4 separate regions of the Homo sapiens genome follow, and all the other regions are reported to be linked to region 1. The links are microRNA targets in miRTarBase. Many come from high-throughput screens and were not tested one by one. Region 1 holds a microRNA gene; each other region holds the end of a gene's coding sequence.
The links. The annotated mature microRNA hsa-miR-6834-5p reads GUGAGGGACUGGGAUUUGUGG and lies in region 1 at 4,387-4,407, opposite strand. An mRNA with a match to its seed (bases 2 to 7 or 8) in the 3' UTR can be bound and repressed. Matches are read on the target gene's strand: a 7mer-m8 pairs with bases 2 to 8, a 7mer-A1 pairs with bases 2 to 7 and ends in A, and an 8mer does both.

Region 1 (7,116 bases):
ACAAGTGGGCTGCAGGGTCGGACAGACCCCCCCGCCCCTTGCAAGGGGCTGTAAGGCACAAATAGCTGAGTGTGGGACAGAGCCAGATCTGTTTCTGTGCCAAGTCGCCTCAGTGATCTGTAAATGGGAAACTAGAAATAGCATCTACATTGATCTGTTATAAGGGTTAAATGAATTTGTATTTGTCAAGTGCTTAGAACGTGCCTGAAACGTAAGCACATCTAGGTTTTGTGATGGGCTCCTGCTCTATTGCTAGAGTTTGTTAAATAAACAAATACTGAGACCTTGGACAAGTTCCTTATCCTCTCTGGATAAGGAATCCTGTCGAATTGGATACTATCCAGTCCTCTCATCTGCAAAGCAGACTCGTTGTCTACCTGAGAAATTCAATTTAAAGGGTCAAGTGGAGTGCTTAGGCCATGATAGATTGAGGAGGAAGGCAGGGAGGGATCGAAGAGTCAGAGAGGCTGGAGGGAAGTGGTTGTGAGTTGGATGTGGCTGTGTGTGTTTAAGAGAGGGGATATTCTCTCTCTGTGGCCGGAAGGTAGGGTTGGAACTTTCACCCCATCCCCATTTTCCTCGCAGAATGGATACATCAATTTTGACAAGCGGAGGAAGGTGAGCGGAGTGTCTGGGCTGGATGCTGGACTTCCCTATCCATGTTCCAGGAAGGGGAGGGGGAAAAGTCAGGGGTCCCTGAGTTTTGGCTCCTGCAGTTTGAGGGCTCCTTCCCAGGAGTTTGCAGTCCTTTCTGAGTTGCGACGGCTCCAGAATGAATGTCGTGGCTATAACCTCCAACCTGACCATGATATCCAGAGGTGGCTACAGGGGCTCCGGCCACTGACAGAGGCTCAGAGGTGACTGGCGGGTGAGGTTGGGACTCCAGGGTTCTGGCCAGGTGTGGGGGATTGGTGTCATGTCCTGAGCTCTGCCTATTGCCCCCCTAACCCAGCCATCGTGTATCCTGTGAGGTGGAGCCACCTGGTTCCAGTGACCCTCCTGCCCCACGGGTGCTTCGGCCAACATTGGTCATCTCGCAGTGGACAGAGTGAGAGATTCACTGGCTGGGGGGTGGTTTCTTGGGACTTCCACTTTTCTCTGATCCTCCCAATCTCCTGCCACTGCAGGGTTTTGGGCTCTGTTGGGGTCCCTACCCCGCTTGTGTCCTGTGACCGGCCCAGTACTGGGGGAGATGAGGCGCCTACAACTCCTGCTCCTCTGCTGACTCGGCTGGCCCAGGTGAGCTCTGCTCCTGACTCTGACCTTGACGCTGACCCTCACTCTGTAAATGTTTCTTCCTTAAACCTCCCTGCCTTCATGCCAGTCCCATGTTGTTTGTTCCTAGCACATGAAGTGGCCATCTGTCTCGTCACTAGACTCTGCCTTGGAAAGCAGTCCATCCCTGCACAGTCCAGCTGACCCCAGCCACCTCTCCCCACCAGCCTCCTCCCCTAGGCCTTCTCGAGGTCACCGCCGCTCAGCCTCCTGTGGCTCCCCGCTGAGTGGGGGTGCAGAAGAGGCCTCCGGGGGGACTGGATATGGGGGAGAGGGATCTGGGCCAGGGGCCTCTGATTGCCGTATCATCCGAGTCCAGATGGAGTTGGGGGAAGATGGCAGTGTCTATAAGAGCATTTTGGTGAGGGAGCCTTGGGATGGAGTTGGGGTGAAGGATGGTGTCTTGTTGGACTATAAATGTTGTCTGAGGTTTGGGCAGCCAAATGGAATTGAATGTAGTTTTAATTTTGACCTTTGGTTTTGGCAGTTATGTTTTATTTTTAATTTTATCTTCTAAACTCTAGTCTTCAATAGAAGCTGAAATTTGTTTTATTTTGATGGCTATTTTGCATTAGTTGCTACACCTTAAACTTTTGGTCGCCGTGTTAAAATTTCAGAATCAACAGCAGTTTCCCCACAGGGAAGCAGCTCTGTTTCACTGGGCACCATGTGGGCTGGCTTATGGGGTATAGGAAGCCACCATATTGGGTTTTCCTGTTCATTTTAAAGCCTTGGACACAAGTAACATTTTGTGGTTGGGTTCAGTGGCTGAGGGTAGAAGGATGGGAAATCATGGCTGATTGATTGCTCTTTTGGTCTCCTGTTCTGCCAGGTGACAAGCCAGGACAAGGCTCCAAGTGTCATCAGTCGTGTCCTTAAGAAAAACAATCGTGACTCTGCAGTGGCTTCAGAGTATGAGCTGGTACAGCTGCTACCAGGGGAGCGAGGTCAGAGGCCATGAGGGAAAGGCAGACTCGGGAGGAGAGTGGAGTACTTCCACATCTGGGCGGCTGTGGGGGGAACAACTGTGTGTGTGCTTTACATCCATCCCCTGAACCTTCAGAGCTGACTATCCCAGCCTCGGCTAATGTATTCTACGCCATGGATGGAGCTTCACACGATTTCCTCCTGCGGCAGCGGCGAAGGTCCTCTACTGCTACACCTGGCGTCACCAGTGGCCCGTCTGCCTCAGGAACTCCTCCGAGTGAGGGAGGAGGGGGCTCCTTTCCCAGGATCAAGGCCACAGGGAGGAAGATTGCACGGGCACTGTTCTGAGGAGGAAGCCCCGTTGGCTTACAGAAGTCATGGTGTTCATACCAGATGTGGGTAGCCATCCTGAATGGTGGCAATTATATCACATTGAGACAGAAATTCAGAAAGGGAGCCAGCCACCCTGGGGCAGTGAAGTGCCACTGGTTTACCAGACAGCTGAGAAATCCAGCCCTGTGGGAACTGGTGTCTTATAACCAAGTTGGATACCTGTGTATAGCTTCCCACCTTCCATGAGTGCAGCACACAGGTAGTGCTGGAAAAACGCATCAGTTTCTGATTCTTGGCCATATCCTAACATGCAAGGGCCAAGCAAAGGCTTCAAGGCTCTGAGCCCCAGGGCAGAGGGGAATGGCAAAATGTAGGTCCTCGCAGGAGCTCTTCTTCCCACTCTGGGGGTTTCTATCACTGTGACAACACTAAGATAATAAACCAAAACACTACCTGAATTCTACTCCCCTGTCCTTGCAGTACATATGAACTGGCTGCTATGAGTGGGGGTGGGGAATTGGCTGAAGGTAGATGCCATGGAACAGGAAGGGGCACAATGTTTTCTGTCCCCATGAACAGAGCAAAAAGTGAGGTATTGGTGAAAAAAGTTTCCTCAGAACAGTTTCTCTCCAGTAACCTCTCTACCACTGGTCCCTTGCTGCAAATGTGTATAAAACAATTTTAGGACAAGGAAATGGCAGAACAACTTTATGGACAACATATAAACTTGGGAGGACTTATAATACCATAAAGCATTACATGCTGGGATTTTAAGTCAGTTTAAAGCTACATTCAAGCAAATTCTAGGAAGACAGAGGCTGAAAAGTACTAATAGAGATGCCAGGGCTGTTGGCAAGGAGGGTAACCACATTTCATCCTGGGGCCTCAGGTTAGAGAACTGTGTATTCTTTTTCAATTAAACCGACATTCCTAGCAATATGGTATGTTGCAAATGCCCTTCCAAAAGAATCATGCCAACCAAGATGAGGGAGAGTTAAGGGTTGTATATACAGGCAAGAAGTAGGTTTGAAGACATTTAGGATTTCACTTTCAAGAAAGAACACTGTGCCACAAAGAGATTCCAAGTGCAAGAGTTTGAACCTGAGGGGGTAATACAGGTGGTGTGTGTTAAGGTGGAAGGGGCTGTGGGGATATGACAGAAGTGCCTGGTCAGGAAACAGAGCCAGGTGTTTTTACATTTTATTAGCTACAGTATAGATCCTAGAGCTGCCTCATTCCCTCCCCTCCCCTCCCCTCCCCCCACCATGGGGTCAGGCCTTGCCAGGAGCCCCTGCCTTTGCTGCCTGGGCCCGCTGGAACTCCTGCTGCAGCTGAGCAAGGGTCTCCCTCTGTTGCTCTGACTGCCGCTCAAGATCCCGAAGCTGGGATTCGTATCGCTTACTAAGGAGAGACAAGGGAGACAAGCAGAAAGGGAGAAATTAGTAGGACTCACTATGGAGAGTGCTAAACGCAAGAAAGAGATAGGTGGAAAACTTGAGATCCAGGGGAGGGAGAAGAAGGGGGGTTAAAAGGGAAGGAAAGGGTTGGAGGAACTGGAGGACTAGGGGCCACTATGGAGAGCTGTTCTGCAATGGTTCAACACCTCTACTCCAATGGTTCACTTGCATCACAGGGTGCAGCACACGGTGGTGGAATAAAAACTCACATTTCAGCTGTGATATAGTCCAGCCTCTTCCCTACTGTGGCCCGAGCCTCCCCCAGCTCCTGTTTGACTAGCACCGGACCCAGAAGTTTAAAGACCACGTTGGACCCATCCAGCAGGGCCAGTTCCTGATGGAGGGATGGGACATATGTGATCAGAACCATGGCTAGTACAGGTCCCTCCTCGCCCCACAAATCCCAGTCCCTCACCTCTTTCACGATATTATTTTCTGTTAGTTGTGCTTCAAGTTTCTGCCTCCCCGACATGGATTTACTTAAGTCTGGGGATGAGAGGAAAGGCAATTTAGAAACATCAAATGTGCCACCTATCCCCACAATCCTAGTCAGGTGGATATGGATCTGAGGAAGCAGAAAAGGATGGGGGCAGCGGGTGAGTGAACAGGGAAGAGTACTGAGACTGAGGCGGGGAAGTCTCTGCACGCGAGGGCCCAGATGGGGCAACAAACCTTATCTCGGTAATGGCTTTGGGTTGTAAGTGCATTGGGCGAGACCATACCGACCCTGTTCCCTTACCCTTCTGTAGCTGTTGATATTTCTCCACTTCTCCCTGTAGCTTCTTCTGGATCAGCTCCGCCATGGCGGGGATGAAAGCCTACTGGGTGCGAGACAAGGGCGCTGGGTCTCACTCTCTGGAAGGTACCTGAGCTCCCTTTTCTGATCTGGCCTGCGGAAATGATAGCACTCTTGAGAGGTAGCCCTGAGGGGCACCGCAACCTCCCCCCCGTCCCGGATATCGACTCCACCCTGTCCCCAGGAGATGGTGGGCGAAACGCAAGACCCCAAGCCTCTCAACCGAAATCCTAACCTACTCACGTTCTTCCTTCAGTAGTAATAAACCCGGAAGTAAACAAGGAATGCTGGGAAAAGACTGTGCCGGAAGTTTCTTTCTGACCCTTGATGGGAAGTGTAGTTCTGACATGTTTAGGGAGTGGAGTTCTGCTAAAAAGACTAGACTAGGACATTTTTAGGCAAGATGGGGAAACTAATCCAGAAAAAGAAACCGCACCGCTACTTAGCCCCTGGCTCCGGACCTGCCTTTCTTTTTTAAATCACTCTTGCATAAGCTGCCGCTCGCGATAAGGTGCCAAAAACTGTTCCGCCCCTCTAAGGAGAGCGTGCCCTCACTCAAGATGGCACCTAGAGAGCTTCATACCTGGTACGCTGCTGATTGGATGAAGGACAGAGGGCTTCCGGGAGTTTTCAAGCCGACTGTGTGGCAGCTGAGAGGAGTTTTGCACGTGGATCGCCGTTCGGGTGGGCGAGATGGAGACAGCCCCCAAGCCGGGCAAGGATGTCCCGCCCAAGAAAGACAAACTTCAGACCAAGAGAAAGGTAGAGGCCTCCCTGGGTGGGAAACGAAGTTTTTAGCTGTGGGGTCGGGGGGCGGGGCGTGAGTGCGGAGTTCCTGATGTGCCTGTAGAAACCGCGGCGATACTGGGAGGAAGAGACCGTTCCGACCACAGCCGGAGCCTCTCCAGGGCCTCCTCGTAACAAGAAGAATCGGGAGCTCCGTCCTCAGAGACCAAAAAATGCTTACATCTTAAAGAAGTCTCGGATCTCTAAGAAGCCTCAGGTCCCGAAGAAACCCCGAGAATGGAAGAACCCGGAGTCCCAGCGCGGCTTGTCCGGGGTGAGCGTGGGACCTGATGGGTGGCGAGGCAGGCCGCCTCGTTCCTTGAGAGTGAGAGGGTTGGGGTCAATCCAAGGCTGTCTGCTAATTGCGTCCTCCTTTCCCCTAGACCCAAGATCCATTCCCAGGCCCCGCCCCCGTCCCTGTGGAAGTGGTCCAGAAGTTCTGTCGCATTGACAAATCCCGAAAGGTGAGGTCCAGCCGGAGAGTTGGGAAGTGCTGGAGGCAGGGAGTGTCTGGGTGAGTTGGATGGAGGCTGGGACAGGTAGCTCTCCTGTGACCCCACTTATCCTGTGGTTCTTCTGCCACTCCTCCCCACCAACAATGTTACAGCTACCACATTCTAAAGCCAAAACTCGAAGCCGACTTGAGGTGGCTGAAGCTGAGGAAGAGGAAACAAGTATCAAAGCTGCTCGTTCTGAGCTGCTGCTTGCTGAAGAACCTGGGTGAGTGAGCCCTAATCTGGACCCCCATTCCCTGCCTTTTGGGACTGTCTTTTCTCGTTTTTATGTTGGTATACTTGCTTCATATTGGGAAGCTTTACTGCCATCCTAACCCTTGCTTTCAGGTTTCTGGAAGGGGAGGATGGGGAAGACACAGCAAAGATATGCCAGGCTGACATTGTGGAGGCTGTGGACATTGCAAGTGCAGCCAAGGTGAGCCTGAGGAGGTAAAGGAGCCAAGGGATTGATTGGTGGTGCAGGACAATAGAGGAATGGGGGCTAGAAGAAGGCGTTACTGCAGGGCACTCTTTTTTTTCACTCTTCTCTTTCCCAGCACTTTGACTTGAATCTGCGGCAGTTTGGACCCTACAGACTAAACTACTCTCGAACTGGAAGGTAAGGTTGAATTCTAGTGACTCTTGAACTAAGATGTGTTTCCTTAACCACTTCAGCCATTCCCAGTGTATGTTTGGGTTGCTGATGAGGGGAGGGTCCTTCGATTTGCTTGGGTGTGAGGGTAAGCACCTACAGCAACATGTGTCTGCCCGCCTGGAGAGATGGGGCTGGCGTGGGGCAGACCTCAAGTTGTCTGAGTCGGTGGTCCCCTGCCTTAACACCCTGCCTGCCCCTCACCTCCAACAGACACCTGGCTTTTGGAGGGCGCCGAGGTCATGTGGCTGCCCTTGATTGGGTAACAAAGAAGCTTATGTGCGAGATCAACGTCATGGAGGCGGTGCGGGACATCCGGTCAGTGGCCTCACTGTCAGCGGTCAGTTGGGGTGAGATAGTCCATTCCTGATTGAATGATAGCCTGTGACCTCATTT
Region 2 (7,116 bases), not on the chromosome of region 1:
ACTGGTGGAAATCTGGGATGGGGAAGAAGAACCAGCCATTGGGTGAAAGGGAACAGTGGGGAGAGGATGAGGAAGCAGGAGCTGGTGGAGAGGAAGGCCTGAGAGGAAGGCTCTGGAAGGTGGGGCTCAGGTCAGGAGCAGGATTGCTGGGGAGGAACAACGCAGAGCAAGTGGAGCAGGGAAGGGTGTTGTGGGTCTGTGGTGGGTGCTGAGAGTGGAGCAGGGAAGGCTGTTGTGGGTCTGTGGTGGATGCTGAGCCAGCTGTCCAGGTATTCTGGGAGAGCAGGCCCTCAGACCTCAGTGCAGAGTGCTGAGGAAGGTGGAGACGTGCCCCATGGGTCGCCTTGCTCTGCTCTGCCCTCTGCAGGAGCACAAGGCCAAGGTGACAGAACTGGAGCAGCAGGTAGCTCAGGCCAAGACGCGCTACTCCGTGGCCCTTCGTAACCTGGAGCAGATCAGCGAGCAGATTCACGCACGGCGCCGCGGGGGTCTGCCTCCCCACCCCCTGGGCCCTCGGCGCTCCTCCCCCGTGGGGGCCGAGGCAGGACCCGAGGACATGGAGGACGGAGACAGCGGGATTGAGGGGGCCGAGGGTGCGGGGCTGGAGGAGGGCAGCAGCCTGGGGCCCGGCCCCGCCCCCGACACCGATACCCTGAGTCTGCTGAGCCTGCGCACGGTGGCTTCAGACCTGCAGAAGTGCGACTCCGTGGAGCACTTGCGAGGCCTCTCGGACCACGTCAGTCTGGACGGCCAAGAGCTGGGAACGCGGAGTGGAGGGCGCCGGGGCAGCGACGGCGGAGCCCGTGGGGGTCGGCACCAGCGCAGCGTCAGCCTGTAGCCGAGGGGCCAGGGTTCCTGGCTTGAATCTGCCACCACGGGCCGGTTGGGGCCCACAGTCTTCTCACGCCCTCTCCTCTGGGGCCTCGTCTTCCCGAAGGTCCCCTTCTCCAGTGCTTCCCTGGGAGAGGCCAGCTGTGTTCGAGTCCTCTGTGCCTGCCCTGGCGTTCTCACAGCCTCCCCCTTCCCCTCAGCAGGCGGCTCTCTTTGCCTTACCCATTCAGAAGGCTCGCCCTCGGCGCTCTGTCTGCCTCTGCCTGCCAGCTCATCACGATCTGCAGGGCATTGACCCTTTGCTTTCCCTTTCTGCTCCCTCTCTTTCCATCTGTTTGGCTTTTTCCCTCAGGGAACTTGGTCTAGAAGGCACTGGGAAGCTCATCAGAGAAAATGGGTGCTGGGCCTGAGTACTCCCGTCGGAGGGGATGGACAGTCACCCCTCCCGTTGGTTTCCAGCCCCGCCCCCCTTCCCAAGGCAACTCTGGAGGGTACCCTAGGTATGCTGCTGAGCCCTGCCCCCCGTCCTGCTCCAGCCTGCCCGTGTGTAACCTGTAAGATGTACTGTGTGCCTCCGGAAGACACCACCTTTCCCTTCAGCATTCCCTTTCATGACCTGAGGCACTCTGCGATGTGTGCCCCAAAGCAGAACTTACAGGGCCTGCAGGAAGCTGGTGTCAGGGAGAGAAACCCAACCCCACTGTCAACATAGGGAGCATCACCAACTCCAGACTGGCTCCTGTGGGTATGGTGTTTCCGCTGGGCTGGGTCCTCAACATTGCCAAGGTGCTAGTGGGTCCCTAAGAGGGCCCATGTTGGGGGTGAAGTCATGAGGTCCTGAAGGCTTAGGCCCCTGTCATTCCCACCCTCACTCTTGCTGCACAGTTGTGTTTACTTTTTCTGGGTAGAGGATGCTGAACTGACTCAGCACCCTCCTGCAGGACGGGGTTAGGGAATTTGGTGCTCAATTGCTCTCCCTTGCTCTTCCCCAAACTGAAAATACCTACTGCAGGATCCCTCGGGGCACACTGAAGCTTGGCTGCCAACCCTCTTACTTCCTTTGTTACAGGGAGGGGTTGGCTTGGGGTGAAAAGTTCTGCCCTCCGCAGGGAGCAGCTCCAGCTGCCTGGCAGTGCTCCCAGTTTGTAGGGAAGCCACACCAGATCTGGGTGCCTTGGGAGAACCAGTCCTTCCTTTTGACCCACCCCAGGAAGATGGAGTGCTCTTTTCTAGGCCCATGTTCTGCCAGCAACCGGGATGCGTGGGCAACTGGACTCTGCACGGGGGTCTACAGGTTGAGGGAGGTTGGTCACAATGAGAACCTCGGGGTTTGAGGTGGCCATGGGCAGACAGCCGAAAGGGAGGGAGGGTGTGGGTGTGCGTGTGTGCATGTGCTGGTGTGTAAGGGGGAAAGGGTCTTTCCTGGTTTTATTTAAATAAAGTAGTTTATGTAACAGTTAACATCTACTGTCCTTGCTGGAGGAAGAGAAAAGGGGCAAAGATGAGGCAAGGGTTGGGCAAGGGAAGAGCAGGGTTAGGCGGCAGGCTTTTTAGATGGTGTGGTCAGGGAAGGGAGGTGAAGGACCAGATTGAGTGAGCTGCGCTATGCATGCTCTTGCGGGGGTGGAAGGCCCCATGGCCAGGGTGGTCATGTACAGGGCAAGTGTAGAGAAGCAGGGGAGGAGTTGGTGCCTCATGGGGCCATGCTGTGTGAGGTGATGGGTGCCAGGAGAGGGTTTGGTAGAAAGGGGCCTGCGGGGTGGAGTGGGCTCTGTCTGAGCTAAGAGATGAGAGTGCCAGAGGGTTGGGATCTTAGATGTGTCTGGATGTGAGCATGAATGTAGAGAAGGGACACAAGTAGTGATGCCAGATTTATCAATACAGTGAACCCACTGAAATTTCAGATAGGCAGTATTTTTGTCTGCTGCAGTGTTTAGGATGTACTTACATTATGAATTATCCGTTGTTTCTCTGAAATTAAAACCTAGATAAAAGGTGACTTCCAAGTCAGGGCTTGACTGGCTGGGGGATGGGAGGGGTTTGAGGGCACTTGAACTCACAGGTGGGAGATTGGATAGGGATGTGAACTCCAGGAGCTTTGAAGAAGAGCAAAAGGCTTTGTTTAGCCTGAGCTGCACTTGGAGTGTACCAGTATTTGGAGTTTTGTTGAGAAGAGGTCAGCCAAGGGAAGAAGAAGGTGCTGGCAGGGAGGAAGACCAGAAACCTTGGGGTCAAGGGGCAGGGTGAAGGCCAAGAATTGGAGGCACGCAATCAGAGCAGTGACCCTGGTGGCTGTGGACGCCATCTGAGGGGCCATCTGGGGCCGCTATGTGCTGAGCACTCACTGTGCCTTTGGATGGGTGCTGTCCAGGAGTTTGAGATTGCCTTCCCTGACTTGGCAGATGGGTGTCATAATATTTTATTACTAGAAAAGCTGCTATGAAAATGCATAGCATATGTTTTTGGGTGAGTGGGCTTTTTAAATTTTTTAAATTGTATGTATAGGAGGTGAACAACATGGTATTTTGATGCACATAATGAAATAGGTATCAAATTGGCCTATCATTTTGCAGTTACCTCCCCCCTTTTTTGTTGTGAAACCGCCTAAAATCTACTCTCAGCAAATTTTCAGTCTATAATACAGTATTATAGTCCTAATGAAGGGCTTTCTGAGATGACACACAGTGCTGGACTTCCCTACCCAGTCACTGGCAGGCAGGACCTGTGAGGCTCCTGGTACAGAAGAGCCCTAGAAAAGAAGGGCTATGCCATGCACGTGCGTTTCTCCTTGCAAAATCACCTAGAAGATGCGGCAGGCGGGAAGAGAGACCAGGAAGGTTAGAGCCAATGGTACTTCTAAGGAGAAGAAGACAGAAGCCGAAGAGCTCCCTCCCTCCCACCCTCGTTGTAGTAACTTGTACTCATCCAGTGCATTTCACGTACCAGGAACGCCCCTAATTAATCTCTACAACAATGTTATAGGACAGATAAACACTATGATTTCCTTTCCACGGTAAGAAAATAAGGCACAATGGGGGGTACTCAGCCTTGCTGAAGGTAACGGAGGCGGCTCCCACTAGGCACTTGGACTCTAGAGTCCAAACGCTTGAACCACTGGGCTCACAGGAACAGGAGGTGAGGAAGTGGAGGTAGTCATCTCCGAGGAAGTTTTGCTGGGAAGAAGAGATGAGAAGTGGGAATACTGTTTCTTAGCTCCTTCTCCCAGCAAAGAGGGTCGAGAAATTTTGTTTAAGGTGAGGAAGAGATGGTCAAGGTGTGGGGGACATAGGGCCCCATCCCCCATTCCTGTACTGTGTCATGTTACATGTTACATTGGCCTGTTGGTAATGAATTGTTCTGATCTTCATCTTCCTCAAGTGTGGGGCTGGGGCCTCAGTCTACCCAACACCTGACACAGGCTCTCACCAACAGATGCTCAGGAAATGTGCTTTTGCTTCTTGCCCCTTCTCTTAGCCCACAGCTGTATCAGGTGGGTTTATCAGTACAGCAGTTTGGAGGTCAGGACCTGGTGATGCACAATCCCAGGATCACATCTCTATGGGAATTCTCAAATTTCATGACGCTTCAATTTTATCGCCTATAAAATGGGAGCATAGAGGCATGTGTGGCATGCTGCTACATCAGTGGATCTGAGGTGCAGCGATTCCTGTTAGCACCTCTTCACAGCCTCGGAGTGCTTAACTCACGGAGGCTTCATCCCATCTTGCGCTAGGCAAGTGGACTCTATGAAAGGGTTGTGTTTCCCTCCTCATCTGGATATGATTTTTGACAAGCATGACAACCCCACTGCCTTTTTAAAAATTTAATTTTTAATATTTATTTTATTATGAGACAGGGTTTTGCGCTGTTGCTCAGACTGGAGTGCAGTGGTGCAATCATAACTCACTGCGGCGTGGGACTCCTGGGCTCGAGCAATCTTTCTGTCTCAGCTTCCCTAGTAGCTACGACCACAGATGCACACCACCATACCCCGCTAATTTTTAACTTAATTTTTTTTTTCTCTGTAGAGATGTATTGCAGTGTTGCCCAAAATGGTTTTGAACTCTTGGACTTAAGCAGTCCTCCCTCCTTGACCTAAAGTGCTGGGATTACAGGCTTGAACCACTGCTCTTTGCCTTTTTTTTTGTTTGTTTTTGTGACACTCGTTCTAGCCCAGGCTGGAGTGCAGTGATGTGATCTTGGCTCACTGCAACCTCGACCTTCTCGGCTCAAGAGATCCTCCCACCTCAGCCTACCAAGTAGCTGGGACTACAGGTGTGTCCCACCATGCCCAGCTAATTTTTGGATTATTTTGGAGGCGGGGTTTCCCTGTGTTGCCCAGGGTGGTCTTAAACTCCTGGGCTCAAACGATCCCCCTACCTCGGCCTCCCAAATTGCTGGGATTACAGGCATGAGCCACCATGCCTGGTTATGCTTCCAGCCTTTAGACATCTTTTAAAATTGACATATTGTAATTGTACGTATTTGTGGGGTGTGGAATCAACCCATCTGTAGATGCTCCTACTCTGCCTGGCAGGAAGAGCGGAGATGACCTTCTTGGGCTGTCAAGGTCTTGCTGTGTCAGCAGGGGGCAGCAGCTACCAGAAAGTGCGCAGAGCCTGGGCTCTGCATTTCCCTGCGCGCACTGCGTGTTGACCCTCCAAGCCTGCGTGGTCAGCCTCATGGGCACTTTGCAGAAGGGCCTGAAAAACTGCACATAGAAGGGTGGGGGTGTGTATACATCAGAATGGAACCCTATTTGTACTTGTCATGGGCCTCTTGCATTCCCGTGTGTCCTCGGAATCACCTATTGCGTGTGAGAGCTGGCTCAAGTCTGCAGCGCAGCTGGTCTCAGGAGGTAAGATGTTCGATATGTAGATGTACCCTGTTCTCCTCAGAGCTCACCTCCTTCCTTGGCCTCCCTAGTGTCTTTTCCCTCTCCCTTTCCACAGCCTCTTTATAAATTTCTCCACCCACGCCTGCTCACCATTCCTGAGCCCCAGGCTGCAACACATTGCTCATGCCCTGGGATAAGGGAACCAGGAGACCATACACTGGCTGGCAAATGGATATGTGTAGTTTACTAAGAAATGTTCACCAGGATCTTTCAGTGTACAAACACTGTGGTAGGCCTTGTTAGGAACACTATAAACTGTAATGCCATGGGTGGGTCTTCCAGGTAAGGAATGCAGGTGTGCACAGGTGGTGCAGGGCAGTGAAAAATACATAACCAGGCCAGGAGCAATGGCTCACAGCTGTAATCCCAATGCTTTGGAAGGCCAAGGTGGGAGGCTCACTTGAGGACCAAGTTTGAGGCCAGCCTCAGCATCATAGTGAGAACCCGACTCTACAAAAAGTAAAAAAATTAGCAATGCGTGATGGCATGCACCTGTAGTCCTAGCTACTCCTGAGGCTAGTGGGAGGATCTCCTGAGCCCAGGAGTTTGAGGCTGCAGTGAGCTATGATCACACCACTATTTCAGAATGGGTGACAGAGGGACAACCTATTTCTAAAAATAAGTAAATAAATAACTAATGAGGGCTGCAGTCAAGGAAAAATCTGGGAGGTTACAGCTGGGCATTGCTCTCCGAAGCTCTGAACCAGCCCCTTGGTCTCAGACTGGAGAAGTGGTGCCTGGCTCCCAATCCTCACTCTTCCCAAATCTGTCTTGAGCTCCCAGGGCCTGTGTCTCACCCATCTTGGTGTTCTCAGGACCTGGAATGTGGAAATTTTCACCAAACAGCTGTCTACTGACTTACTTCTGCTTGTGCTACCCTTGGCACAAGTTTCCTCCCTTCTCAAACTGTCAAACTGCTGCCTGTGGTTTGAGGACCAGATCATGTGGTCAAAAGTCCACATGAGCTGGGATTCAACCACAGGCACCTCTCTAGCCCAGTCTGAATTAATCCTTATCACTCTCAAGTTCCCCATGGCTCTTTTGACTTACTGAAGAATGGGCCGGTTGTTGTAGACATGTCTCTTGTTGGTCCTAAGTCCTCAGAAGAAGGGGTCAGTATCATCCTTGACTCCATCTCACTCAACACATAACACAATAGACATATGTACAGGGACCATACGTGATGCATAGTCTAAATTGGGACAGCTGAGTGTGAAAGGGGGCAGGTGTGGCCTGGGACTGACTTGGGTGATCTAGGACATATGGTCACCCTCATTCTAGGTGCTCAGTAAACATTAGTTCTTTTGAGAGCTTCGGTGTTAAAAACACTGACCACACTATTCAGAGAGGGTTGCCCTTGGCCTGCCCCTGCCACAAGGGGTTATGTG
Region 3 (7,116 bases), not on the chromosome of region 1:
AGGCGGGTAGATCACCTGAGGTCAGGAGTTCGAGACCAGCCTGGCCAACATGGTGAAACCCCATCTTTACTAAAAAAATACCAAAAAAAAGAGTCAGGCGTGGTGGCGCACACCTTTAATCCCAGCTACTCAGGAGGCTGAGGCAGGAGAACACTTGAACCTGGGAGGCAGAGGTTGCAGTAAGCCAAGATGGCGCCACTGCACTCTGCACTCCAGCCTGGGCAACAGAGACTCTGTCTCAAAAAACAGAGTAGGCAAAGAGACCAAATGTGGTACATGCATCCTAAAATATTTACTAGCTGGCTCTTCATGGAAAAACTGGCCCAGCCTTCCCTTAGCCTCTTCCTCCCTTCTGAGGAGACTAACCTGTTTCTTCCCAAAGCAGGATCCGAGCCAGGAGACACTGAGCCTTTGGAGTTAGGAGGTCCTGGAGCAGGTGAGGATGGAGCCGGGGCTACGGTGGGAAGCCTGGTGGGGTCTCAGGAAATCCTTTGCAAAGAACTGGGGTTGGTTCCTCTGTTTCACCTGCGGTGATTCCTTTGCTCCCCCAAACTCCCAACAGAACCTGAACAGAAAGAACAATCGACAGGACAGAAGCGGCCTTTGAAGAACGACGAACTATAACCCCCACCTCTGTTTTCCCCATTCATCTCCACCCCCTTCCCCCACCACTTCTATTTATTTAACATCGAGGGTTGGGGGAGGGGTTGGTCCTGCCCTCGGCTGGAGTTCCTTTCTCACCCCTGTGATTTGGAGGTGTGGAGAAGGGGAAGGGAGGGACAGCTCACTGGTTCCTTCTGCAGTACCTCTGTGGTTAAAAATGGAAACTGTTCTCCTCCCCAGCCCCACTCCCTGTTCCCTACCCATATAGGCCCTAAATTTGGGAAAAATCACTATTAATTTCTGAATCCTTTGCCTGTGGGTAGGAAGAGAATGGCTGCCAGTGGCTGATGGGTCCCGGTGATGGGAAGGGTATCAGGTTGCTGGGGAGTTTCCACTCTTCTCTGGTGATTGTTCCTTCCCTCCCTTCCTCTCCCACCATGCGATGAGCATCCTTTCAGGCCAGTGTCTGCAGAGCCTCAGTTACCAGGTTTGGTTTCTGAGTGCCTATCTGTGCTCTTTCCTCCCTCTGCGGGCTTCTCTTGCTCTGAGCCTCCCTTCCCCATTCCCATCCAGCTCCTTTCCCCCTGGGTTTCCTTGGCTTCCTGCAGCAAATTGGGCAGTTCTCTGCCCCTTGCCTAAAAGCCTGTACCTCTGGATTGGCGGAAGTAAATCTGGAAGGATTCTCACTCGTATTTCCCACCCCTAGTGGCCAGAGGAGGGAGGGGCACAGTGAAGAAGGGAGCCCACCACCTCTCCGAAGAGGAAAGCCACGTAGAGTGGTTGGCATGGGGTGCCAGCATCGTGCAAGCTCTGTCATAATCTGCATCTTCCCAGCAGCCTGGTACCCCAGGTTCCTGTAACTCCCTGCCTCCTCCTCTCTTCTGCTGTTCTGCTCCTCCCAGACAGAGCCTTTCCCTCACCCCCTGACCCCCTGGGCTGACCAAAATGTGCTTTCTACTGTGAGTCCCTATCCCAAGATCCTGGGGAAAGGAGAGACCATGGTGTGAATGTAGAGATGCCACCTCCCTCTCTCTGAGGCAGGCCTGTGGATGAAGGAGGAGGGTCAGGGCTGGCCTTCCTCTGTGCATCACTCTGCTAGGTTGGGGGCCCCCGACCCACCATACCTACGCCTAGGGAGCCCGTCCTCCAGTATTCCGTCTGTAGCAGGAGCTAGGGCTGCTGCCTCAGCTCCAAGACAAGAATGAACCTGGCTGTGTCAGTCATTTTGTCTTTTCCTTTTTTTTTTTTTTTTGCCACATTGGCAGAGATGGGACCTAAGGGTCCCACCCCTCACCCCACCCCCACCTCTTCTGTATGTTTGAATTCTTTCAGTAGCTGTTGATGCTGGTTGGACAGGTTTGAGTCAAATTGTACTTTGCTCCATTGTTAATTGAGAAACTGTTTCAATAAAATATTCTTTTCTACAGTTTTTGTGCTGTGAGTTTTTAAAAATAGAAAAATTTTGGGCCAGGCATGGTGGCTCATACCTGTCATCTTAACATTTTGGGAGGCCAAGATGGGAGGATAGCTTGAGGTCGGACCAGCCTGGGCAACAGCAAGACTCTGTCTCAAAAAAAAAAAAAAAAAGTATCTGAGTGTGGGGATGTGTGCCTGTAGACCCAGCTACTTGGGAGACTGAGGCTGGAGGGTGGGTCCCTTGGGCCCAGGACTTCGAGGCTTCAGTGAGCTATGATCGTGCCACTGCACTCCAGCATGTGTGACAGTGAAAACCTCAAAAAGTTTGAATAATTACATCATCAAAATGTTATTGACACTTTGGACTTAGTTGAGATTTGTATATGTATTTTTTTCAAGGAAACAAAATACTGGTTTTATTTTACTGCTAACATTATTTGGACTCCTATATCCCAGGCATTTTTAAGTAACGTACTTTTTTTTTTTTTTTTTCTTTGAGACTGGGTCCTGCTCTGTTGCCCAGGCTGGAGTATAGTAATGCGATCCAGGCTCACTGCAACCTCCGCCTCCCGGGTTCAAGTGATTCTACTGCCCCAGCCTCCTGAGTAGCTGGGATTACAGGCACCTGCCACCATACCCAGCTAAATTTTTTTTGTATTTTAGTAGAGACGGGGTTTCACCATGTTGGCTAAGCTGGTCTGGAACTGACCTGAAGCGATCCACCTGCCTTGGGCTCCCAAAGTGCTGGGTTTACAGGCCTGAGCCACTGGGCCCAGCTGGTAACATTAATTTTTAAAATAGCAACCTCATTGTACAAATAAGATACCAGTTCATAGAGATTTAGCAAGTAATTGGTCCAAGGAATGAATCAATGTTGAGTGCTTCAGCTAGGTTTGAGCTTAATTCTGACCATTCGCCCTTGTTCTTCGTACTTAGCCGTGGGAATGTGTTGGTAGAGACCATTTGTAGCAGTTTCGGTTCATCAGTTTGGGATGCAGCATGCCTAGCCCAAATTTTCTATTACCAAGGGAGGATCCCTCTTGTCACTAATCATGTACATATCTAAGCAGTTGTATACGGTATACAGGGTGTTGCTCTGTCACCCAGGCTGGAGTGCAATGGTGCCATCTTGGCCCACTGCAGCCGCGACCTCCCAGGCTCAAGCAATCCTCCCACCTCAGCCCTGTAGCAGGGACTACCTGGCTAATTTTTGTATTTTCTGGTCGAGACGGGGTTTCACTATGTTGCTCAGGCTGGTCTTGAACTCCTGGACTCAAATGATCTGCTTGCCTTGGCCTCCCAAAGTGCTGGGATTACAGGTATGAGCCACTGAGCTTGGCCCCGTTGTATTTACATTTAATAACCATGAAGGCCCAGCCGGGTGTAGTAGCTCACGCCTGTAGTCCTAGCACTTTGGGAGGCCAAGGCAGGCGGATCATGAGGTCAGGAGATCCGAGACCATCCTGGCTAACACAGTGAAACTCCGTCTCTACTAAAAATACAAAAAATCAGCCGGACATGGTGGCACCCGCCTGTAGTCCCAGCTACTCAGGAGGCTGAGACAGGAAAATCAATTGAACCCGGGAGGATGAGGTTGCAGTGAGCTGAGATCGTGCCACTGCACTCCAGCCTGGGCGACAGCTAGACTCTGTCACACACAAAAAAAATAACCACGAAGGGTTGTCTTTTTTCTCTAAAAGTTGAACAAGTCAGATAAGTTTTGAATGTGGAAGTTTTGGGTTTTTGTTTTTTTTTTTTTGGATGACTTTTAGACAGTTTCAGATTCACAGCAGAATTGAGCAGGAGGTACAGAGTTGCCATATACCTCCTGTCCCCACATACTCAATCTCCCCCAGAGTGGTACATTTGTTACAATCACCCAAAGTTCTGTATGACACCATAATGGTGGGTACATATACATTTGTCAAAACCTATAGAATGTGCAACACCAAGACAACTGAAAGTGTAGACTTTGGGCAAATATGATGAGTCAGTGTAGGTTCCTCAGATGTAACACCTGTAGACCTCTGGTGTGAAGTGTTTATTATGGGGGAAGCTGTGAGTGTATGGAGGAAGGGAATATACGGGAACTCTGTATTTTCCCCTCAATTTTGCTGTGAACCTAAAAGTGCTCTAAAAAAAAAAGGCGAAGCTAAGTGCAGTGACTCATGGCTGTAATACCAGTGTTTGGGGAGGCAGGAGTGGAAGGATCGCTTGAGGCCAGGAGTTTGAGACAACATAGCCAGACCTCATCTCTACAAAAAATAGTAGTCCTAGCTACTCAGGAGGCAGAGGCAGGAGGATCACTTGAAACTAGGAGTTCAAAGCTGCAGTAGATTATGATCGCACCACTGCACTGCAGCCTGGGAGGGAGAGACCCCGACTCAAAAAAAAAAAAAAAAGGCCCGGCGCGCCTTGCCTCAAGCCTGTAATCCCAACACTTTGGGCGGCCGAGGCAGGCGGATCACCTGAAGTCAACAGTTTGAGACCAGCCTGGGCGACAAGAGCGAAACTCTGTCTCAAAAAAAAAAAGGGTGGGGAGGTGGGGGGCAGGCACGGTGGCTCGGGCTAGTAATCCCAGCACCTTGGGAGGCTGAGGCAGGCAGATCACAAGGTCAGAAGTTTGAGACTAGCCTGGCTAACACAGTGAAACCCTGTCTGTACTAAAAATACAAAAATTAGCTTGGCGTGGTGGTGGGCACCTGTAATCCCAGCTACTCAGGAGGCCGAGGAAGGAGAATCACTTGAACCCAGGAGACAGAGGTTGCAGTGCGCCAAGACTGGGCCACGGCACTCCAACCTGGCAACAGAGCAAGACTCCGTCTCAAAAAAAAAAAAAAAAAAAAAAAAAAATCGGGACTAGATGGCTTCACTGGTGAATTCTACCAAATATTTTTAAAATATTTATTTTGGCCAGGGATGGTGGCTCACATCTGTAATCCTAGCACTTTGGGAAGCCGAGGTGAGTGGATTGCCTGAGCTCTGAAGTTTGAGACCACCCTGGGCAACATGGCGAAACACCATGTCTACTAAAATACAAAAAATTAGCCGGGTGTGGTGGTGTGTGCCCGTAGTCCCAGCTACTTAGGAGGCTGAGGCTTGAGAATTACTTGAACCCAGGAGGCAGAAGTTGCAGTGAGCTGAGGTCATGCCACTGCACTCCAGCCTGGGCAACAGAGCGAGACTCTGCCTCAAAAATAAAAATAAAAAATAGCCAGGCCCGGCCGGGCGCAGTGGCTCACACCTGTAATCCCAGCACTTTGGGAGGCCGAGGCGGGCGGATCACCTGAAGTCAGCAGTTCGAGACCAGCCTGGCCAACATGGTGAAACCCAGTCTCTACTAAAAAATACAAAAATTAGCCGGGCTTGGTGGCAGGCGATTTAATCCCAGCTATTTGGGAAGCAGAGGCAGGAGAATCATTTGAACCTGGGAGGCAGAGGTTGCAGTGAGTGGAGATCAAGCCATTGCACTCAAACCTGGGGGATAAGAGCAAGACTTCTCTCAAAAAAAACAAATAGCCAGGCCCAGTGGCTCACGCCTGTAATCCCAGTCAGGATACCTCAGGTCAAGACCAGCCTGGCCAACATGGCAAAACCCCATTTCTACTAAAAATACAAAAAATAGCTGGGCGTAGTGGGGCTGGGCGCAGTGGCTCATGCCTGAAATCCTAGCACTTTGGGAGGCCGAGGCAGGCAGATCACCAGGTCAGGAGATCGAGACCATCCTGTCTAACACGGTGAAACCCCATCTCTACTAAAAATACAAAAAAATTAGCCGGGCATGGTGGCAGGTGCCTGTAGTCCCAGCTACTTGGGAAGGTGAGGCAGGAGAATGGCATGAACTCGGGAGGCGGAGCTTGCAGCAAGCGGAGATCACTCACTGCACTCCAGCCTGGGTGACAGAGCAAGACTCCATCTCAAAAAAAAAAAAAAAATCCTCCTGCCTGTGCCTCCCAGTGTTGGGATTACAAGCATGAGCCATCCTGTTCAGCCAGGGGCTAATTTTGAAACAAGCCAGGAATAAAGACCCAGCTACCTGTGGGGAAAAGAAAGAGAGATCAGATTGGTAATGTGTCTGTATAGAAAGTAGACATAAGAGACTCCATTTTAATCTGTAACCCCACCCCCAACCCTGTGCTCCCTGAGACATGTGCTGTGTCAACTCAGGGTTAAATGGATTAAGGGCTGTGCAAGATGTGCTTTGCTAAACAAATGCTTGAAGGAATCTCAAGTACCCAGGGACACAAAACACTGCGGAAGGCCGCAGGGACCCCTGCCTAGGAAAGCCAGGTACTGTCCAAGGTTTCTCCCCATGTGATAGCCTGAGATATGGCCTCGTGGGAAGGGAAAGACCTGACCGTCCCCCAGCCCGACACCCGTAAAGGGTCTGTGCTGAGGAGGATTAGTAAAAGAGGAAGGAACGCCTCGTTGCAGTTGAGACAAGAGGAAGGCATCTGTCTCCTGCTCGTCCCTGGGCAATGGAATGTCTCGATGTAAAACCCGATTGTATATTCCATCTACTGAGATAGGGGGAAACTGCCTTAGGGCTGCAGGTGGGACATGCGGGCAGCAATACTGCTCTGTAAGGCATTGAGATGTTTATGTGTATACATATCTAAAGCACAGCACTTAATTCTTTACCTTGTTTATGATGCAGAGAACTTTGTTCACGTGTTTACCTGCTGACCTTCTCTCCACTATTATCTTATGATCCTGCCACATCCCCCTCTCCGAGAAACACCCAATAATGATCAATAAATACTAAGGGAACTCAGAGGCCGGCGGGATCCTCCATATGCTGAGCGCCGGTCCCCTGGTCCCCCGATTTCTTTCTCTGTACTTTGTCTGTGTCTCTTTCTTTTCCAAGTCTCTCGTTCCACCTAACAAGGAACACCCACAGGTGTGGAGGAGCAACCCACCCCTTCAGCTACCGAATCCTCCTGTTTAGGGGGAGTCACGACCAATTAATCCAAAACCACCAGGTAGAAGTCAAGATGATGCCAACTGGGCTTCCAGACAAGAAATTACTCAAGAGAGCTATCGGAACAAGACACATAGATACCCTCCTGTACCACTCCCATATGTTTCCCATGCCAA
Region 4 (7,116 bases), not on the chromosome of region 1:
CACTTTTCAGATTGTTTCATAATTAAATGCCAGAATGCTATGGACACTTAGAAAAAGGGAGAGATTTGTATTGACTCAGTTACTGGAGGGTTCATGAAACACCTTGAGAAGGAAGTTGCTATAGATACCATTGTTCCTTGTGTCTTTAAGGGCAAAAAAGAAAAGGCTAATAAGAAAGCACCATTAAATGGAATAAGGTGTCTAGAAGCAGAACACCCAAAGAAAGGAAGGGTCATTCCTCTGTCATTGCAGAGCTCGTGGGGAGTTTGTTTTATAATTGGAGAGATGAGTTCACTGAATTCTGACAAAAATGGTTTCTTTTTTTCTAGGGCCTGTTCTTCTTGATGAATTTGTTGAGTGGCAAAAAGTCCGTCAGACATCATAGCAAGAACTATGTGAAGAAAATGCAAACCTTTCAATTCCCACGTGTATACAAGCTAATGTGATGAGGGGGAAAAAAATCCAACGGGTGCATTTTCATTCATATGAAAGACTTCTCATAGTACTTTTTTTTCCTTTTTTTAAAGGAGGTTTTTCTTGTTACATGTGATGGGCATTGAGCCACACCTCTTCTTAGACTGAATATTGAAGTTTTTGTTTTGAGTTATGTTTATAACATTTATTTCAGAACAATAAAGATTCAGATTTGTGACAAAGGCCTTAAAGTGAAGATGTCCCTTGAGTGTCAGAGTGGTATTTATTTTTGTAAATTTGAATTTTTTGATTTTTGAGGTTCCAATTCACCGTGAATTTACAGAATTTTCAAGATTTTAAACAGTCTTAATATTTGGCAACATAGTCTGCTGATGGTATGGCTCATTATAGTCATCTCTGCACAATTTGGAAGACTGTTGGCCTTGACTTCTGGGATAATGATTTGCTGATGCAGCTAATAAACATTTCTAGGTATTGGAAAAATGCTCCTACTTTTAGCTCTGGGTTTCTATAAAAGCTGCCAAGGTCTTATGCAGATGTCTTATCTCAGAGAGCTTAGAATTGGAAAGATTATGTCCAGTTGTTTTGTTTTCTAAAAAAGTTGTATTATTAAGTTGTATCATCATTATTATTGTTGATAATAGCATATTTATATTTTTAACTGTCATTATATAGGGAATTTTGTTTAAAGCACTTTTTTTTTTTTTTTTTGCCTTAAGAGAACGTTAGCTGTGATATGGATTTAATTAAGATACACATAGGAAAAGAAGACAATAGAATAAGGAATCATGAGAGAACTCTGGGTATAATTAATTGTGCACAACTCAATAGAGCCATTTACGTTGGTAGTATTGCAGCTTGCTAATTATCACAATTTTCTGCCTGTTGGTAATCAAGTGTCTTGAGGAAAGGGAAGGCTTTCCTAATTCATGTAAAAGGCACTTTTGTACTAGCAGCAGGCCTGTTTGTACATTCCTTTTCAAACCATCCAGTATCCCAGTGATATGAAAACTTTGTTCATATTCATAGCCCAGTCACAACTTCAGAAACATTTCTAGTGTCATTGTTTGAGTAGAGAGAAGTAAAGAGGTTATTTTTCCATAATAAGGGAGTGTTTCTATTAGGATTTAAGGTAAAGGTTGATTTTTCAGTGGTGAATTTGTTTAAAGAATGATTTCTCCATATTGATTACCTAAGAGAATGACATTTTAAAGTGTTTTATTGTTTGCTTTTTAGTTAATCAGCTGGGAAAAAAATGATTGCCACTGTTTTACTTGCCTTCTTAATAAGATTACTTTGTACAGTTTTCTGAAACACCCATAATAGTGGGAGACAGTTTTCCTAAATGTCTTATAGAAAAGGATAATACAGAATGCTCCTCTTAAGTATTAGAATCACTGAGTTATGAACTGAGCATACCAGTGGTGTTAGGATTTAATATTATGAATGATGTTTTAATATCAAATTTATTATAAGGAAAGCATTTAGATTTGTAGACCTTTAAATTTATAATTTAGTTGACTCTTCAAGGCACATCTGAACTGAAGAACATATCCACTTTTGTTAAATTCCAAAACATATAAGCAAAATCTTATAAATTGTCCATTTGTAACCTGAACTAATGGTAATATCTTTTTCATCTTCAGTATTTGAGTAAAATAGGGAACACTTAAAGCTTATAGATGACATGTTTTTTAAAAGGTATATTTATGAAAGCACAGGCATCCTTGGTATACGCAGGAGATTGATACCAGGACCCTTGTGTATACCCAAATCTGTGCATACTTAAGTCCTACAGTCATCCCTGTGGAACCTGCCTGTATAAAAAGTCAGCCCTCCCCGTGTATGTAGGTGTCGCATCCCGGGAATACTGTATTTTCAATCCATGTTTGGTTTAAAAAAATCTGCGTATAAGCAGACCCACACAGTTCAAACTCATGCTGTTCAAGGGTCAACAGTATTTACTTTGCATACTTATCCAAAGATACCTTTAAGACTTTTTGAGTCTGAAAATGAAATTTACTTTATTTTTTCCCTTAAAGTCAACTGTCCTATCCTACCCTAGCCATACTTTGGAGTCCAGTACCACTGAGGCCACGCTTGCTTTACTCTATTGCTCCATCTATTTCTCTTACCTTCTTAAAGTTATAACATTTGCCTACTTTGAAGGCAAATTTACTCTGCCTAATTCATCAGTCAGGGTGTGGGCTGTGTCCCTTCCTGTCTTTCCTTTGTTAATTTTGAATAGCATTTAATTTACTGGGAAATTTATGATCAAAAATGTTAAGTGATATAAACAATACAATATTAAGGACCCTGCAGTATAAAAAAGTCTAACTGTTGTGGTTCCTTTTTTGACTAGTTAGCTTTAAGTGCCTTCCCACGAACCCTGTTGTAAAATTTTCAGAACTACTTCCCTTTGTACAGGATGAAATACCGTATGGTGCTTTATAACATGGAGTTGAGTTGTTTCTATAAGAATATTATACAAATGTAATACTACTGGGAGAAAGTAGAGCCAGATGTTGATTGGACAGATTGCAACCCCCCCACCCCCCCACTCCTCGGGGCCAATAATTCTTAATAAGGTATGATGTTAATACCTCTAGGAAATTGCCAGGGATTCAGGTGACAGTGTGTGATGAAAACGGTGTATTGTGTGCTGGCCTGACTGCATTACCATGTTTGTCTTCTATTGTCTAATGATTTCTTATTTCTTAAATGCTGCTGATAAAATTATTGATATAATACATTTTTGACAGTAGTAGCATTTTTGTGTATAATGTATAGATTTTATTGGTTTTTACTCAGAAGCACTCTAGATTAGTGTTTCTTGAACTGCAATTTGAAGCCTTCTTTGGGAATGTTAGATTGAGGAGTATTTCTCTTAAATACAAATGCCTTTTCATCTAGCAAACCAAAAATTATATCTTAATATTGAATGCCATCACTCGGGGTCGGGGTGGGAGTAAATTCTGAGATAACTCCAGAGTTTTCAAGGCATACAAGGTATGTGGAATAGCACAGATTCAGAATACATGATACATACGTATAAAATGAAACATTTCACTTTGAAGTATTTCTTCAACAAAACATGTCCTGTCTGCCTACTTGCTAATGTGAAATTATGAAAGGATTTATTGAAATATATGTTCAGTTTGAGGTGTAATTGGTAAGAATGCCAGGTGTTGTTCTTCTGCCCTCTTAAAGAAGTGTACTTAAAACTATTGTGATAATTCATCTCTGATAAAACTTTGTTCTGGCCTTCAAGGCTCTTACAGCTTAATGTTTTAAATGTCTAAGGCATCAAATAAATTGAGGGCATTTTAATAAAAAAAAAAAAGGAAAACTAAATGCCTTTCTTTGTTAAAGCAAAAGGCCAAAAATAAAAAATAAAATTAAAACCCCCCCCAAAAAAACCCAAAAGTCTTACTCCTAAAGAAGAATTCTTACCTCTAAGGAGGAATCCTTCCCTCTTGAGGAAATACCACTTTTTGAGTGACATTAGAAATCATCACAAGGAAACATTTCAAAGAAAGGATCATTTTTTTTTCAGGAGAAAGAGGAATAACAATTTCATTAACTTCCTCAATAGGAAAGGCTAGTCTGAATTATTAAATATTCTGGATTATATCTTTTTTTAATGATATAGTTTTATTACTTCAGGAATATTTGGTAAGAACCAGGTAAACCTATTGTTTAAGATTTGTTCTTTTTTGTTAATAGACCTATGATTAGTATGGTGGAAGCCCAAAAAGCAGTCTAATTTTTATGATAAACTTACAGACTGTGGAAAGATGAATTTCTGCCCCAAACCTTGGATAAGTTGTCATTAATTTAATTGTAGAGATTTTTCTAGTGAACTTGTACTTCACTGGAACAAATCTTTAGATCTTTTAAAGCACAATTTATTTATGTTTTTAAAAACAGTCTTAAAACTGATCGATCATACATTTGCTGTGTCCACCTTACAATCTTTTACATTCTATTAGTACAGATAGTGTTTCCTTTGCTCCTTTTCCTGACCAGTTGTTATTGGTGTGACCATTTTCTTTTTAGGATCGATGAAACATTTTGCTGTGTATGCTGTGTCATGTATTAGAACCTCTTATAATATGGCTCATTTTTACATGGTTTCTGATTTACCATGTGTTAAATATTCCTTAAAATACATCTAGTAACACTATATAGTAAGGTTAGATTTTAACCTAAGTATTGAATCTTGTCTTATAATGCCAATTTTATTGGAGCTTTGTTGCATTTATTTTTGGCTCTATGGTCCATAAATGGGAGTTAATAGCAAACGTTTTATTAAAAATGTCTTAGCTTTCCCCCAAATTATATCATTTTTTAGAAGTTTTATCCTTCTGGGGTGTTTTTGGCTTTCTGAGCTTTAAGATATTAATGAATTTTTTCCACATACTTCATGGGTTTGGTTTTAAGTATGAGGTTAAAATTGTGGATTTTAAAAAGCTAATAAATACTTGAAGTGAATATATAGAGAGAGCCAGATTTCCCCAAAACTCTGTGAGCTGTGTGTGTTTTGTGTAGAATATTAGCCATAATTAACTTTTCCCTTTTTTTTTTTGGAGACAGGGTCTTACTCTGTCACCCAGGATGGAGTGCAGTGGTGCGGTCTCAGCTCACTGCAGCCTCGACCTCCTGGGTTCAAGAGATTCTCGTGCGTCAACCTCCCAAGTAGCTGGGATTACAGATGCCTGCCACCATGCCCAGCTAAGTTTTGTATTTTTTTTTTTGTTTGTTTTAGTAAAGATGGGATTTCACCATGTTGGCCAGGCTGGTCTCAAACTCCTGCCCTCAAGTGATCCCACCCACCTCAGACTCCCAAAGTGCTGGGATTACAGGTGTGAGCCACCACTCCTGGGAAATAATTAACTTTTTCACATAGAAAATAGATCACAGATAAAAGCTCCTCACATATTTTGAAGGTCAAAAAAAAATTTGCTGTTGCTAACAATTGCCTTTGAACCATGAAAGAGGAAAAACTAACTTTATTTGAGCAACTTGTCATTTGAGACTTAAACTAACTTATCAAACTTAGCAGAATTAACTTGTGAGTATTGACTTAAGTGAAGTTAGTTTATATACTTTACTATTCTGTCATGCAAATAAAATGGCTTAGAGCAAGTTCATACACAGTTACTTTTATCTACAAATGTAGAAATCTTACCTATTTGAAATTTACATTATTCCCTGAAACTATGCCTATTGAGAGAGAGTTTATAGAAGTATTATCTGAGAAACCTGAGTTTGATTTTCTTTTTGTGACATTCCTGTTAATGTCACTTTTAAACAAGCCACTTAACCTATGTCATTTTCAGTTTCTTCTGTAAAATGGCGATAATGATACCTACCAGTATTGTTACGAAGTTCAAATAGGCCCTATCCACAGCACTTAGTAGGTGTTAAATGAATGCGTCTTGTTACTTGAACAAGAAGTGGTTAGTTATGATAGTTTATTTTTTTCTGACAAATTTACTGTCTTTTATAAAAAGAAATAGCTAGGATTTCCTGTGTTATCCTGCCATTTTTATAATCAAACAAAATTATTAATATTCTCCTTAGACTAAATCATTAATTTAACAAATCTCAAGCATCTACTATATGCCAAGAAGTATTCTAGGCCTGAATATATTGCAGGGCACGAAGCAAGACAGTAATTTCGAACCTTTATGGGATTTTTATTTTAATTGGTTAGTAAAATAGTTTATCATTTGGTGACAAGGTTATATGGGGAAAGTAAGTTGAGGAAGGGGCCCAGAGAGTGTGTGAGGATAGGATTACTATTAAGTAGCATGTACACTGATATGTGACATTGAGCAGAGGCCTGAGGAGGTGAATGGTTGTGCAGTGTGGATATCTGGGAGGAGAGCATTCCAGGCAGAAGGAATATTACATGCTAAGGCCCTGAGCTGGTACAGAGTGTAAAGAAACAGTAAAGAGATCAGTGTGACTGTAGTGAACAATAATAGCATTTTAGGGAGAATTAGAAAATGAACTGAGAGAGATTGGGAGTAATAATCCTGCCTGATTGTAGGTAATTACGTAGGGCATTATAGCCCTTTCTCAAGAGTAGGACTTTACTGAGTGAGCTAGCAAGCAATTAGGATTCAGATCAAAGCAAGGATGGAAGCAGGTAGTAGTAGGAAGATAATATGGTAAATCCAGGTGACAAATGGTACAATTTGAGATTAAGAGTAATGGAAATAATAAGTGGTCAGATTCTGAATGTATTTTGGTGGTAGCACCAAAAGGATATGCTGATAGAATGGATGTGAGGTATGAAAAAAAGAATGATCAAGGTTTTTGGCTTGAAGAATGAAGTGGGCATTAATAAGATGGCGAAGACTCAGAGGAGCAGGCTTAAGCGGGTAGATTGAGAGTTTACTTTTGGATATGTTATGGTAGACTTGTCTGTCAGACGTCCAAAGGAAAATGTAGAGTGGGCAGTTGGATATTTGAACCTGGAAAAGTAGAGGTCTGGGCTGGAGATAAATATATTTGGAAGTCATCAGTGTGTAATCTTATTTTAAGTCAGGACATGGATGAAACCACTTAGAGAGTAAGTGTAGCCAGAGGATAGAACTTAATTGAAGACATATGATCGATGAAATTCAAGGCCAACTTTTGTGATTTTTCAAATAGAAATAAAATGTTAAC

Region 2: miRTarBase lists SH3BP5L as a target of hsa-miR-6834-5p. Seed matches in the 3' UTR shown: 7mer-m8 at 1,176-1,182.
Region 3: the mRNA of HYOU1 is a reported target of hsa-miR-6834-5p. Seed matches in the 3' UTR shown: 7mer-m8 at 1,516-1,522.
Region 4: miRTarBase lists DCUN1D5 as a target of hsa-miR-6834-5p. Seed matches in the 3' UTR shown: 7mer-A1 at 5,251-5,257.

What each region holds. Positions count from the first base shown.
Region 1 is chr6:33,287,536-33,294,651 of GRCh38, reverse strand. It overlaps MIR6834 (microRNA 6834), which reads right to left and starts at 4,407; the gene lies at 4,327-4,407. WDR46 (WD repeat domain 46) reads left to right here and starts at 5,413. Exons shown (of 15, transcript NM_005452.6): 1 at 5,413-5,550; 2 at 5,639-5,848; 3 at 5,958-6,038; 4 at 6,182-6,294; 5 at 6,417-6,504; 6 at 6,626-6,687; 7 at 6,934-7,038. The coding sequence starts at 5,482. It overlaps PFDN6 (prefoldin subunit 6), which reads right to left and starts at 5,051. Exons shown (of 4, transcript NM_001185181.3): 1 at 4,732-5,051; 2 at 4,408-4,478; 3 at 4,202-4,326; 4 at 3,719-3,936. The coding sequence starts at 4,795. The coding sequence ends at 3,807. RGL2 (ral guanine nucleotide dissociation stimulator like 2) reads left to right here. Exons shown (of 18, transcript NM_004761.5): 12 at 586-618; 13 at 736-857; 14 at 953-1,048; 15 at 1,128-1,239; 16 at 1,346-1,636; 17 at 2,108-2,222; 18 at 2,339-2,998. The coding sequence ends at 2,550. RefSeq lists enhancers at 5,285-5,818, 6,353-6,886, 6,887-7,116.
Region 2 is chr1:248,805,622-248,812,737 of GRCh38, reverse strand. SH3BP5L (SH3 binding domain protein 5 like) reads left to right here. Exons shown (of 7, transcript NM_030645.3): 7 at 368-2,292. The coding sequence ends at 838. It overlaps LOC124904577 (a long non-coding RNA gene), which reads left to right and starts at 5,220. Exons shown (of 2, transcript XR_007067008.1): 1 at 5,220-5,689. RefSeq lists a silencer at 329-378.
Region 3 is chr11:119,039,101-119,046,216 of GRCh38, reverse strand. It overlaps HYOU1 (hypoxia up-regulated 1), which reads left to right. Exons shown (of 26, transcript NM_006389.5): 25 at 386-436; 26 at 563-2,029. The coding sequence ends at 624. HYOU1-AS1 (HYOU1 antisense RNA 1) reads right to left here and starts at 2,029. Exons shown (of 2, transcript NR_186315.1): 1 at 1,472-2,029; 2 at 724-832.
Region 4 is chr11:103,055,628-103,062,743 of GRCh38, reverse strand. It overlaps DCUN1D5 (defective in cullin neddylation 1 domain containing 5), which reads left to right. Exons shown (of 8, transcript NM_032299.4): 8 at 330-7,116. The coding sequence ends at 385. Among named protein-coding and RNA genes, the nearest start is that of DCUN1D5, 33 kb to the left of the region's middle.